Linked DNA regions of Homo sapiens. The protein of the gene in region 1 purifies or fractionates together with the protein of each later gene. This does not show direct contact. Each region holds a gene or a part of one and is shown in the gene's direction. Other genes may lie near its edges.

Evidence for each region. Proteins that work in one complex are often made in the same cells at the same time.
Region 2: the proteins of MTMR9 (region 1) and CENPF purify together in Homo sapiens (co-immunoprecipitation; 2 studies listed by BioGRID and IntAct, with this or other methods). This does not show direct contact.

Annotation. Positions count from the first base shown.
Region 1 is NC_000008.11:11,322,816-11,328,646, forward strand, and holds the end of MTMR9 (myotubularin-related protein 9), read left to right. Parts: 3' UTR 1-5,331; downstream 5,332-5,831. UniProt on the Homo sapiens protein: Acts as an adapter for myotubularin-related phosphatases. Increases lipid phosphatase MTMR6 catalytic activity, specifically towards phosphatidylinositol 3,5-bisphosphate and MTMR6 binding affinity for phosphorylated phosphatidylinositols.
Region 2 is NC_000001.11:214,606,178-214,613,217, forward strand, and holds part of CENPF (centromere protein F), read left to right. Parts: intron 1-2,136; exon of another isoform or gene 2,137-3,026; intron 3,027-3,842; exon of another isoform or gene 3,843-7,040. UniProt on the Homo sapiens protein: Required for kinetochore function and chromosome segregation in mitosis. Required for kinetochore localization of dynein, LIS1, NDE1 and NDEL1.

The DNA of each region.
Region 1 (5,831 bases):
CCTTCTTGGGCCTGTGTCCGCCGTTCTCTCCTTGTGCCCTTCAGTTCACTTTTACACGGTAGCCTTGAAGTGAAGGCTTTAGATGTGGGACCCCCCTAATGTAATGGATTTCTCAATACTGTATGAATAATGAAACTTACTATCATAAACCATGTTTCATGTGGCCTGTTAGGGCCTGTCACTTTGGGAGCCGGAAGGAGGTGCTAGTCATTTTATTTTTACGTGAAATAGATGACCTATTTAATGCCATTTGTGTTTCATGCCATTTTATCCAAAGCTTTTTCTCTGTGTCCACTCTCCAAACAGCATTCTAGAGCAGTCAAGGAGACAGCTAATCTCTCTAGGGACTATTTGGTGGTTTAAAAAAAGGGTCAGACTTTTAAACACTCTGACCATAGAAATGTTTTTCAAAATGGCAACAATGGATAAACCAAGGATTTTGTGTTTAACAATCCATTTCCAGTGTCTTCGCCACATAAAATAGCCATTTTCTTTAAAATAGTTTTGGACTAACGAAGCTGAAATCTATTCTCATTCTTGTTTGTCAAGAAAGGAAAATCTGTTATTCAAGGTAAATTATTTCTACAAGGGCAACAGGTATGGTCCTCCGATATTTACATTAAGAAGAGTTAAATTTATTTTAACGTAGACACTAAAAGTATGTGCAATATACAATTAAAGTAGGAATTTGTTACTGATTGAGAATTGTTACTGGTGAATTGGTTTTCAGGTTTTGAGCATACATATACAATGTGTTTCAAATGCTGCTTGTAAAATTAAACCATCATCTAGAATAGAGTTAATTTATTATAATCAAGCTACAAATAGGTTTTCTTAAACCAGAGATGCACTGCCCTTGTCTAAAGTTCTTATTGCACTGGTTTATATGTGTATGTGTGTTTTATTGTGTGTTTTTTTAATTTGTAAGTATTCTAAGAGTTTCCTAATACTAAGGTTAAAATTTTCATGTTGACCTGAGCCTTTTGCAAATTTGCTTTGGCTCTATTGATTTGTCCATTATGTGTTAGGCAAATATAACTTAAGTGGAGGGGGAAGTTTATGAATATAATATAGCTCTGTGTTTTAAACCTCAGAAACAGATTTGAGTGTTTCAGTATTATAGAAACAGTGATGACTATTCATGCTCTGCTAGTCTATGCCTGCAACTCCAAATGTTTGTGGTTCAGTATTTCCCACCTACATTTCTGTTTGGTGACATTGCTCATTTTAACAAATATGACCGAGTCTAGTTTTTCTTTAAAAGGATAGTTTATGAGTAATCTTTAAAACCATTTCCATACCATCTGTATATAACCATTTCGGTAGAGAACACACTACACTGAACCCTGCTTTAGAGCTGTGTGTTGAGCTAAAAATATAATTTTTTAAAAATTGACTAGCAAAATCTATGGCCACACTGAGAAGCCTTTGAAAATGGCAAATACTTTTCATCACCAATTGCCCAATTCATCTTTCTTCTGCTTCCTCAGCCTTGTAGCAAAGGCTACACAGCAGCCCACAGTCCACAGTCTTTTTGGGAAAATTGGCCTGCCACCTTCTTTAAGCTCAGTTTATTTTTGACTTACTTTCTTTGCTGTAGTTATGAACCTTGGGGCATTAAAATCCCATGGCAAGGAGCATAAGAGATGTTCTCGTAGCTCTGCGTTGTGTGAAATGTCCATCTTAGTTTTGTTAAAAAAAAAAAAAAAAAAAGGAAACAGCCTCACTTTTTTGTGCTCCCTCAGAATTGCTTGCTATGTCTGTTAATACAGCTGAGCTTTTTGTTTTCTTCTCTTTTTGTCTCAAGATTGTATATGAAGGAGGCTTTTCTTCTCAGCTAACAGGCATATAAGGAAAACCATCTAGAGAGTTTTCTTTAGAAGTGACTCCCATTAGCCTGGTGTGGTGGTGTGTGCCTATAGTCCCAGCCACTAGGAAAGCTGAGGCAGAAGGATCCCTTGAGCCTAGGAGGTTGAGGCTGCAGTGAGCTATGATCGCATCAGTCCACTCCAGCCTGAGCAACAGAGCGAGACCCTGTGTCTAAGTAAAGAAAAAGCCAGAAGTGACTCCCACTGCTTCTGTTGATCGGCCATAGGGCTTCCATGGGTGGAAACTTGTGAGGGAGTTTGTATTAGGTCTGGTCATGGAGGGATGATGTACCATCAAGGTAGACCCATCTTCCTGATGCACATTTGCTGTGCGAGCCAGAGTACAGTCATAACACGGTATTCGCATTTCGTTTTCTCTGTCTCACTGAGACAACAATCTATACTGTTTTGGCAAGTTTGCATTTTAGTATTAATTTATAATTAGGGATTGTTCAAACTTCAGATCTGTTTACAGGTTGTAAAAATAAACTTCGGTATCAGTGCATCTACAGAAGTGTTATTTGGTAATCCAAATATTAGAGTTTTCCCAAATCCAAAAACGGTCAGAAATAAGTCCATTATCAATATAATTTGAAGAAGATTTTTAGTAGTACTGTGAAGTTCGTGCTTACCTGGATGAGAAGAATAAATGACACGGATACACTCCTGAGAAGACACTCGTTAAACATTGCATCGGAGAGCTGCCTTTGATAAATGTGCTGTTAAACACTTGAATGAAGAGAATGGTGGCAGAATGAGTGAGCAAGCAGATTGCCCCAGAGGGGCCGGTAATAATCACGTGAGGGATAATCAGATTCCTGCGTATTCAGCATCTTCTCTATTCATGTGGAGTGAAAGCTGGTTTTTATACAGGAGATACGTAAAGTAGGCCCCACAAATAATATTTTTAAAATACAAAGGATCACCACAATCCTCTATTGAACATATAAGGATCCTCAGATTTAAATAAGTACTTTTTTTTTTTTTAATCAGAAGAACATTGTTGTTTGATTATATGTTTTTAAAAACCTGAAGCTTTTTTGGTGGCAGGACCTTTCAATAAATATTTATTTGGTCAAAATTTTTTATTTTGATTTTATTAAATGGGAAGAAAGCAAGCAGAAATAGTAAAATTCAGTAGGTTTAAAACAATCTATAAATGTATTTTATTTCCAAGAAAACTTAGGGTCTCAAAGCAAGATTTTAAAGTGATTTTTGAGAAGACTTGGGGGGGACAATAATAGACATTCATGTCAGATCCCATATGGGGGATTTTTAAACATTTCTTTGAACTTTGAGGCCTGATTTAGGGGTGGGATTTTATTGCTTTTTGTTTTAAAGGATGAAATTTTGTGGGGTTTTAGTCTTTGATTCAGTCAGTATTTGGTTTATGTTAAATAAAAAATCAGTATCATGGAAAAGATATGACCATAATTTAGTCTCCTCAAGTGAAAAACAGGAGTAATGTTTCGTTGCACTTTGAAAGATCTGCTTCAAGGCATAACTCGTGTAGTTGTCTGGTTTCAGGGATAGCTGTTTGAATTGTCATTCTAAAGTAGGTCATCAGGTTCACTTATTATCCGACCTTAATCTGGGATAAAGGTTTTGGTATTTGCCCACTTCTAGATAGAATGAATGAAAACAACACAAGCGTTTTATGAGCACTCTTTATCAGAAAGGTATTTCCTGGACCAGAAATGGGCAATAGTTACAATAGTTGATCCTCTGTTCTGGAAGCTTTGAAATTTATCAGAGAATGAAGTCATTCAGTACATCTGATAAAGTTTTGTTGTTGTTGTTGTTGTTGTTGTTTTAATTGGGCAACCCTCAGAACTGAAGAGGTTCAGAGAACTTTCCAGGTTTATACTATACCTCAAGACCACATAGATTAGCTACTGCTTATTCTTTCACATGGGCTAGGCCTGTTCTCCTCCTCCAGACCTAGTATTCTAAGTTATTACCACATAGTATTTTTATGTTACCCATCATCTTTAAAAACATTATAGGCTGGGCATGGTGGCTTACGCCTGTAATCCCAGCACTTTGGGAGGCCAAGGCGGGCGGATCATGAGGTCAGGAGATCGAGACCATCCTGGCTAACACGGTGAAAACCCATGTCTACTAAAAATACAAAAAATTAGCCAGGTGTGGTGGCGGGCGCCTGTAGTCCCAGCTACTCAGGAGGCTGAGGCAGGAGAATGGTGTGAACCCGGGAGGCAGAGCTTGCAGTGAGCCGAGATCGCACCACTGCACTCCAGCCTGGGCGAAAGGGCAAGACTCCATCTCAAAAAAAAAAAAAAAAAAAGACTCATTTATCCATTTACATTTATTCTCAGATGATAAAATATATACTGATACTATAACTTTCTTATGGTATCAGTTTTCTTTATTTTCTTGAATAAAATTACTTCTACCTTCATTTGGTCTTTATAATCCACTGTCCACAGCATCTTCCTTTAAACCAATAGTCCCAGAAGAGACCCTCTGAAATTCTAGGACTGGATATTAAAATGCCTGAACCTGTTATCTAAATCCTTTTTAAGAAACTTAATGTTCCAGCTCTTGAACTACACTGTGGAACAGTAATTTGTGCCCAATTTAGTGGAAGATAATGAGGCTCACTGTAAACACTACATTGTCCTGCAAAGTAATTCTGATGAGAGTTTACTGACTTCTAGAGCCATTCTCTTTAACCGTCTGCAGGTCTAAGGATTAACTATATTTGTGATTTGTAATAAAACTGAGTTGTACAACACTGCCTGTGTTTGTCTGGCCAAGACATTTGCTTCACTTTTAAAATGCACGTTATCTTTGGAGAGGTGAATTATTCTACAAAATGCACCCTAAATCTCATTGTTTAAAACCTTACTGATCTAATACCATCTACACAAAAAAATGTTGTAGTTGCAGAACTTAGTTTATAAAAACAAAGAATGTGTATTTCTTCAATAGCCGGGTATTTGGATTGTTCTCTTGATAATATTTGAATGTGACTCTTGGATTTAAGTGCACTATTATTCATGGCTTATACAATAAAATTGCACTGTATGGCAAATATGTCTATAATGTATGCTTTGCTGAAACCTCAAGAGTGCTGTAAGGTACAGGTTTCCATATTGTGAACCTGTGTACGCACACACACATATACATACAGTCTTAGGGAAAAAAAAAAGCAGAACTTTTGTAAGTCTGTGTAACATTTTAATATTGTTTGTAATATTCACTAGGTGATAATTTCCCCTGTACCCTATAACTGTAATCATTCACCTTGGGTTGGCCGGTTTGTCAAGCTTGGTTTACTGAATCAAGAAAGAGTCTTGTCGAATGTGGTACTGTTCTTAGTGTGTAATATTTGCGTATGGTGTTCCTCTGCCTCAGAGGACAGTTGCACAGATGGCTAGTGTTAAATTTCTATAGACGATGGTAATAAAATCTGAATATATTTAAGTGCTAATAAATTAAATCTGTGGGCTTATTTGAATTTTTTTTTCAAATATTGGTGAAGGTTTGGATGGTGTTTCAATTAAATCTATATATTTTTTACCTTACATTTTGAAAAAATTGAGATCTGCAAAAAGGCTGCAAAATAGTACACTGATCTCCCTAGATTGTTCCTATATTGAATGATTGGTAAAATTTTCCATATTTGCTTTAATACCACGTGTGTGTGTGTGTGTGTGTGTGTGTGTTTGTTACACTGTTATTTTGCTGAAACATCCGAGTTAGCTGCAGACATTGTGACCCTGTCTTCTAAATACTTCACAGGAATCTCCCAAGAATTAGGAATATGTATTCTACATATTATTGATTTAGTATGTATTAATATAAACACATGACTCATTGAGGGTAAAAGGAAAGCTCTTTCTTAGAGTAGAATGCCAGCTATTAAATGTAGAAAGAAAATGGAATTAAAAAGCCACTATTTGGCATATTATTACAGTAATCATTGACTTAGGCAATGCC
Region 2 (7,040 bases), on another chromosome or scaffold:
GTCTCCCCACTCAGCCAAGTCAGTGGGTCAGGCCCAGGCTCCACACCAGTCCCGAGGGCCACCCCCAGCCCTCAACACCGCGGCGGTGGGCGAAGCCAGCGGCCCCACCCCGTTCCCTGGCGCTGCCGTTCCCTGGCGTTTCCTAGCTAGGATCTGTAGGGATCCCGCCTACGGAGTGGCCCTGGGGCGGAGGTAGGGGAGGCCCTGGCGCCTCTCCTCCTGATCACCCCTAGGTGCACACTGGGAACTGTGTGCCCCCCACATCCTGAATGCTTCACGCCTTCCTGCCCGGGTTAGAAAGCCGTTCCTGGTGCACTGGCCAGGACAGCGGACACTCTTCCTCCCTGCAGCCCTTGCCCACCCCCTTGGCCATGAGGAATTCAGGCAGCTGTGTCCCCAAATGTCTCCACCCAATTTTGGACTCTCGGAGTCCCCACGCCCAATGAGATGCCAGTGCAACCCAGGTCAGCATCGAGGGTCGTGGCTGCGGAGGTGGCACCCCCTCCCACCAGCACCTTCCCTTGGGAGTGGACAAGTCCTCGGCCACCTCAGCATCACCAGCTCCCACCCAGGGCCACCCCCACCCCCAGGTCACTGGTGTGCAGCCCGTGACCCAGCTGATCCAGCACCAGTTACAAGGCCTCCTCGTGCCCAGTCCCAACCACGCGGGACCCACCTGCCACCCTGCCCATGCCGGGACCCCACAACTCTCCTCCCACACGCTCCAGGCTCTGATCCCAGGCAGATGCCCTCTTGCAAGGCAGGAGCATGGGCAGGTGTGCGTCCCCTCTGCCTGGCATTCGGACTCCACCAGCAGGGCTGTCCCCCTCCCTGGCCTGGAATCCCAGCCTCCTGGCAGCACTCCACAGCTCGCCACTCACCCATGCCCCAAAGGATGCTGCCTGGCTTGTGCCTGTGGCCCCAGCTCTGCCTTAGCCTCCCTGGCCTGCTCCCTGGCAGCCATGGTCAGTAGTGTGCTGAGCCAGCCCAGCCCTGTCACCTGCTACCAGGCAGGAGCCCCCAGCTGCCACCTGGATGTCACCACTCAAACGAACAGGACACATCCCCAGTGGAGGCCCTGGGCATGCTCTGGCCTCCCCCTCACAGCTCTGGGCCTAGGTTCCTGCAGGACAAAGTGGCAGCAGGACAGATGGCCGAGCAGACAGAGCTCAGAGCTGGCCATGGCGGGTGTGACTCTGCCAGTGGCCCAGGCAGTAGAGACAGGAGGGGCCGAGGAAGTCGCATGAAGTGGTTGGTGTCAGCGCCCCACACTGCTGGGAGGCCCCTGGAGCCAGGGTGGTGCCAGGGGACCAGCTCCCAGGCCCACAGCAGGGACTGCCTGCAATATCACCAAGGCAACGAGGACCCCACCTCCCCAGGGCCTCTGACTTCTCAGAGCTATGCCTGGTCCCTGCGGGAGCAGGTCAGACCAGTGGGCTGGGCAGGGCCAGGACGAGACAGCCCCAGTGGATGGCGAGCAGGAAAGGTCACCAGAGGCCCACCCGGGTCTCCTCATCCAAAGCAGCACTGGCCCGGGCGGTGCTCAAACACCAGTGAAGGCCCCAGGCAAGCGCAGGGCTGGGGACCTGGATGACTAGGAGGGCTGGATCTGGAATGGAGGCTGGCCCAGACCTTGGATGTGTGCTGGGGGTCTGCACCTGACCCTGCAGGCCCTGCCCCAGGATGGCCAAGCTCCGCAGCCACAGGGCCTCATGGGCCAGGCCTCGGGACCTGGATGCAGCAGCCTCGCCTCACTTGGCCCCAAGTGCTGCCTCGGCCGATGGGGCCCCAGCCACACGTGCACAGACCCCCAGACACCACCCACTCCCTCCCGCCGGGTGGCATCCACGCCCCTGTGACAAGCTCAGCCCCTTCCCGTCCTCAGGCCAGGGGTTCCCAGGGAGCCTGGCTCCACAGGCCAGGGTGTGGAAGGACCGCCTGGCCACACCTCAGCCATGTGGAGGCTGCACCTGCACACCCAAGCTCGCCTGTCCGGCTCTCTGGCCCTGTGCATCCACTGTGGCTCCCCTCCTGCAGAGCCGCCCACCTTCCTCCCAGGGAAGCCCGCCCCCCGGCCCCCGGCCTGGTCCCCTCTTGGGTGTGCCCAGGCTGAGCTGCCCCCAGGGTTGCCCTCACCTGGTGCGCAGGGCCTGCCAGGCGGCGTCGATGTCGGCATAGAGGTTCCTCTCGGAAGGCCTACCCGAGCTGGCACCGTAGCCGGAGTAGTCGTAGGAGAAGATGTTGCAATGGAGGCGGGAGCCCAGGCCAATGTAGAAGCTGCTCATCTGGCCCAGGTCCACGGCATTGCTGTGCGAGAAGAGGACCGTGTACCTGGCACCAGTCACGCAGCGAACATACATGCAGGAGACGCGGTTGCGGCGGGCGCTCTTGGTGGGGAAGACCTCAATGGTGTCCAGCTCGCGCTGGCTGTACTGGAAGTCGGCGCGCTCCGTCAGGTGCAGCTTCCAGCGCCCGGGTGCGCCCGAGGAGGCCCGCAGGGTCCCCAAGGGGGCGGCCCCGGCCCCACCAGGCCCCGGCTCGGGCTCAGTCACCAAGGAATAGGTGGCCTCCGGCGGCAGGAAGGCGAGCTTGGCAGCGATGCGGCCGGGGCAGGGCGGGCAGCAGAAGAGGCAGCAGAGCTCACTCAGCGACAGCCCGTTCATGGCGGGCGCCGCCCGGGCCAGGCCCCCACCGGGGCCCCAGCCAACAACGCCGCCCGGCCTGGCCCGGCAGGGGAGGGGTGGGGGTGCTCCGAGTCGCGGGCAGGGGGGAGGGCGCCCCCCCAGCTACGGCCCCAGACGGCAGCCCCGTTAGGAGGCCAGGGCCCAGCCCCATCGCGGTCCAAGCCGAGCCCCAGGGAGCCTCGCAACCACAGGTCTCCATGTCACGCCGTGGGAAGCCCACCCCGGCCCGCGCCCCTGGGCCCCAGGGCCGCACTCCATGGCGCCTGGCCGCCTGCCCGTGCGTCCGTCGGTCCCTCCGCGCCCCGGCCGGCCTCCTGCATCGCCACCGCCGCAGCTCCCCCCGAAGAATCCGCTTTGAATCTCTAAGGTTGTACTGTATATGTCTTTCCTGGTCAGTGTCTGTCTGGAGCATGACTTTACCACCTTTTGCAGTGATTCTAGTACTAATACGGCATTCACTCTTCATTCATGCATGCATTCATTATTAAAAAATGATAACTGCTTGGAAGGAGATGGGCTACCTGTGCTGTGAGTAACTATGATGGGAAACTATGGCCGGGTCAGGGATCTCAGAAAAGTTTCCCAGAGGAAGAGGGACAAAGTGTGAGTGGTAATTAACCATGTGAAGAGGGAAAGAGGAGCATATGCAGAATATCTTGTCATGCATTTTCTTTGTTTATAGGACCTATTTCACCTGAAAACCTTATGGCAAAATATTATTTTTTTCTTAGCTTTTATTTTTGGTTCAGGGGTACACATGCAGGTTTGTTTTACAGGTAGACTCATGTCATGGGGGATTGTTGTACAGATTATTTTGTTGCCCAGGTACTAAGCCTAATACTCAATAGTTATTTTTTCTTCTGCTCTTCCTCCTCCAACTCTCCACCCTCAAGGAGGCCTCAGTGTCTGTTGTTCCCTTCTTTGTGTTCATTTGGTTTTCTGTTCTTGCATTAGTTTGCTAAGGATAATGGCCTCTAATTCCATCCATGTTCCTGCAAAAAACCATGATCTCATTCTTTTTTATGGCTGCATAGTATTCCATGGTATATGTGTACTACATTTTGTTTATCCAATCTGTCACTGATGGGCATTTAGATTGATTGCATGTCTTTGCTATTGTGAACAGTGCTGCAATGAACATTTGTGTGTGCATGTGCCTTTTTTTTTTTTTTTTTTGGTAGATAAGGGATTTTGCCATGTTGCCCAGGCTGGTCTCGAACTCCTGAGCTCAAGTTATCCACCTGCCTTGGCCTCCCAAAGTGTTGGGATTACAGGCATGAGCCACTGTGCCTGGCCATGCATGTGTCTTTATGGCTGAATGATTTATATTCCTCTGGGTATATACCCAGGAATGAGATTGCTGGGTTGAATGGTAGTTCTGTTTTTAGCTCTTTGAGGAATTGCCATACTGCTTTCCACAATGGTTGAACTAATTTGCACTCCCACCAAAAGTGTATAAGTGTTCCCTTCTCAACTTGGCCAGCATCTGTTATTTTTTAACTTTTTAATCATAGCCATTCTGACTGGTGTGAGATGGTATTTCATTGTGGTTTTAATTTGCATTTCTCTAATGATAGTGATATTGAGCTTTTTTTCATATGCTTGTTAGCCACATGTATTTTTTTTTTTTTTTTAGAAAAGTGTTCATGTCCTTTGCCTACTTTTTAATGGGGTTGTTGTTTTTCTCTTGTAAATTTAAGTTCCTTATAGATGCTGGATATTAGACCTTTATCAGATGCATAGTTTGTAAATATTTTCTCCCATTCTTTAGGTTGTCTTTTTACTCTGTTGAGTTTCTTTTGCTGTGCAGAAGCTCTTCAGTTTAATTAGATCTCATTTGTCAATTTTTGCTTTTGTTGTGATTGCTCTTAGTGTCTTTGTCATGAAATATTTGCCCATTCCTGTGTCCGGGATGGTATTGCCTAGGTTGTCTTCTGTGGTTTTTATAGTTTGGGGTTTTACATTTAAGTCTTTAATCCATCTTGAATTAATTTTTGTATATGGTGTAAGGAGGGGGTCCAGTTTCATTCTTCTGCATATGGCTAGCCAGCTATCTCATCATTTATTGAATAGGGAATCCTTTCCCCATTGTTTGTTTTTGTCAGCTTTGTCAAAGATCAGATGGTTGTAGGTGTGCGGCTTATTTCTGGGCTCTCTATTATGTTCCATTGGTCTATGTGTCTGATTTTGTACTAGTACCATGCTGTTTTGGTTACTGTAGCCCTGTAGTATAGTTTGAAGTAGGGTAACATGTTGCTGTCAGCTTTGTTCTTTTTGCTTAGGCTTGTCTTGGCTATTTGGGCTTATTTTTGGTTCCATATCAATTTTAAAATAGTTTTTTCTAGTTCTGTGAACAATGTCTTTGGTAGTTTGATAGGAATAGCATTGAATATGCAAATTGCTTTGGGCAGTATGGCCATTTCAATGATACTGATTCTTCATATTCATGAGCATGGGATGTTTTTCCATTTGTGTCACTCTGATTTCTTTGAGCAGTGTTTTCTAATTCTTTTTTTTTTTGAGATGGAGTTTCGCTCTTTGTTGCCCAGGATGGAGTGCAGTGGTGCGATCTCAGCTCACTGCAACCTCTGCCTCCCAAGTTCAAGTGATTCTCCTGTCTCAGCCTCCTGAGTAGCTGGGATTACAGGCGTCTGCCACCACACCCAGCTAATCTTTGTATTTTTAGTAGAGATGGGGTTTCACCATGTTGGCCAGGCTGGTCTTGAACTCCTGACCTCAGGTGATCTGCCCGCCTCAGCCTCCCAAAGTGCTGGGATTACAGGCGTGAGCCACTGAGCCCAGCCTTCTAATTCTTATTGTACAGATCTTTCACCTCCCTGGTTAGCTGTATTTCTAGGTGATTTATTCATATTGTGGCAATCGTGAATGAGATTGCATTTTTGATTTGGATCTTGGCTTGGCTGTTGTCAGTGTATAGGAATGCTAGTGATTTTTGTATATTGATTTTCGTATCCTGAGAGTTGGCTGAAGTTGTTTATCAACTGAAGGAGCTTTTGGGCCAAGACTATGGGGTTTTCTAGATGTAGGATCATGTTGTCTGCAAACAGGGGTAGTTTGACTTCCTCTCTTCCTATTTGGATGCCTTTTATTTCTTCCTCTTGCCTGGTTGCTCTGGCCAGGACTTCCAATAGTATGTTGAATAGGAGTAGTGGAAGAGGGCCTCCTTGCCAGTTTTCAAGGGGGGAATGCTTTCAGCTTTTGCCCATTCAGTATGATGTTGGCTGTGGGTTTGTCATAGATGGCTCTTATTATTTTGAGGTATGTTCCTTCAATACCTAATTTATTGAGAGTTTTTAACGTGAAGGGATGTTGAATTTTTAATGAAAGCTTTTCTGCATGAGATAATCATGTCATTTTTGTCTTTAGTTATGCTTATGTGATGAATCATATTTATTGATTTGCGTATGTTGAACCAACCGTAAATCCTGGCGATGAAGCCTACTTGATTATGGTGGATTAGCTTTTTGATGTGTTGCTGGACTTGGTTTGCAAGTATATTTTTGAGGAATTTTGCATCGTTGATCAAGGATATTGGCTTGAAGTTTTCTTTTTTTGTTGGGTCTCTGCCAGGTTTTGGTATCAGGATGATGCTGGCCTCATAGAATGAGTTGAGGAGGCGTCCCTCCTCCTTAATTTTTTTGGAAACCAGGGGTACAGACAAAGTACCCTGTACACCCAACAGTAATCCCACAGGAGAAGGCAGAGGCCCCAGGCCATTTAATCAGCAGCAAGGTGATTATGTGATATGTCTTTTCACAGTTGAGTTAGATGTACTCCACCAGTTATGATGGGAATCAATTTAAATATACTTTCTTGATCCCAGAAATTCAAGTATGTGGACAGGATGTTACACATGGCAGGATGATTGTTACAGCGCAACTAACATATTTCAAATGGACAAAAAATTAGTATAATTTACAGTATCTTAAGATAAATTTCCTTTGAATGGGAGCTTCCTTTCTAGTCCTTTGAGGTCTACAAGGCATATCTAGAAAATTTACTACTGTGGAAGATGAAGACTGTTTAAATTGAATGGGGGGCAGGAAGGGGAAGGGCCTATGGTTTTTCTTTTTGATTAACTGCTGTAACCCTGTCCTTCAGGCAGCTGAAGGAGTGTCACATTTTCTTTAGACATCATTAGGCACCAAAGCTCTTGTAGGACAACTTTGATGCTACATGAATTCTGCCATTTTGCTAGCACTGATATGGCTTTTTGGTCCACCACTCCATTACAACTATTAACCCTATTTATATTAATTTTTGTTACAAATCTTACAAAGGCAGGGTGCTTCTGGGCATTTAGGATACATTCTATTTTAAGGCTGTATACTTGAT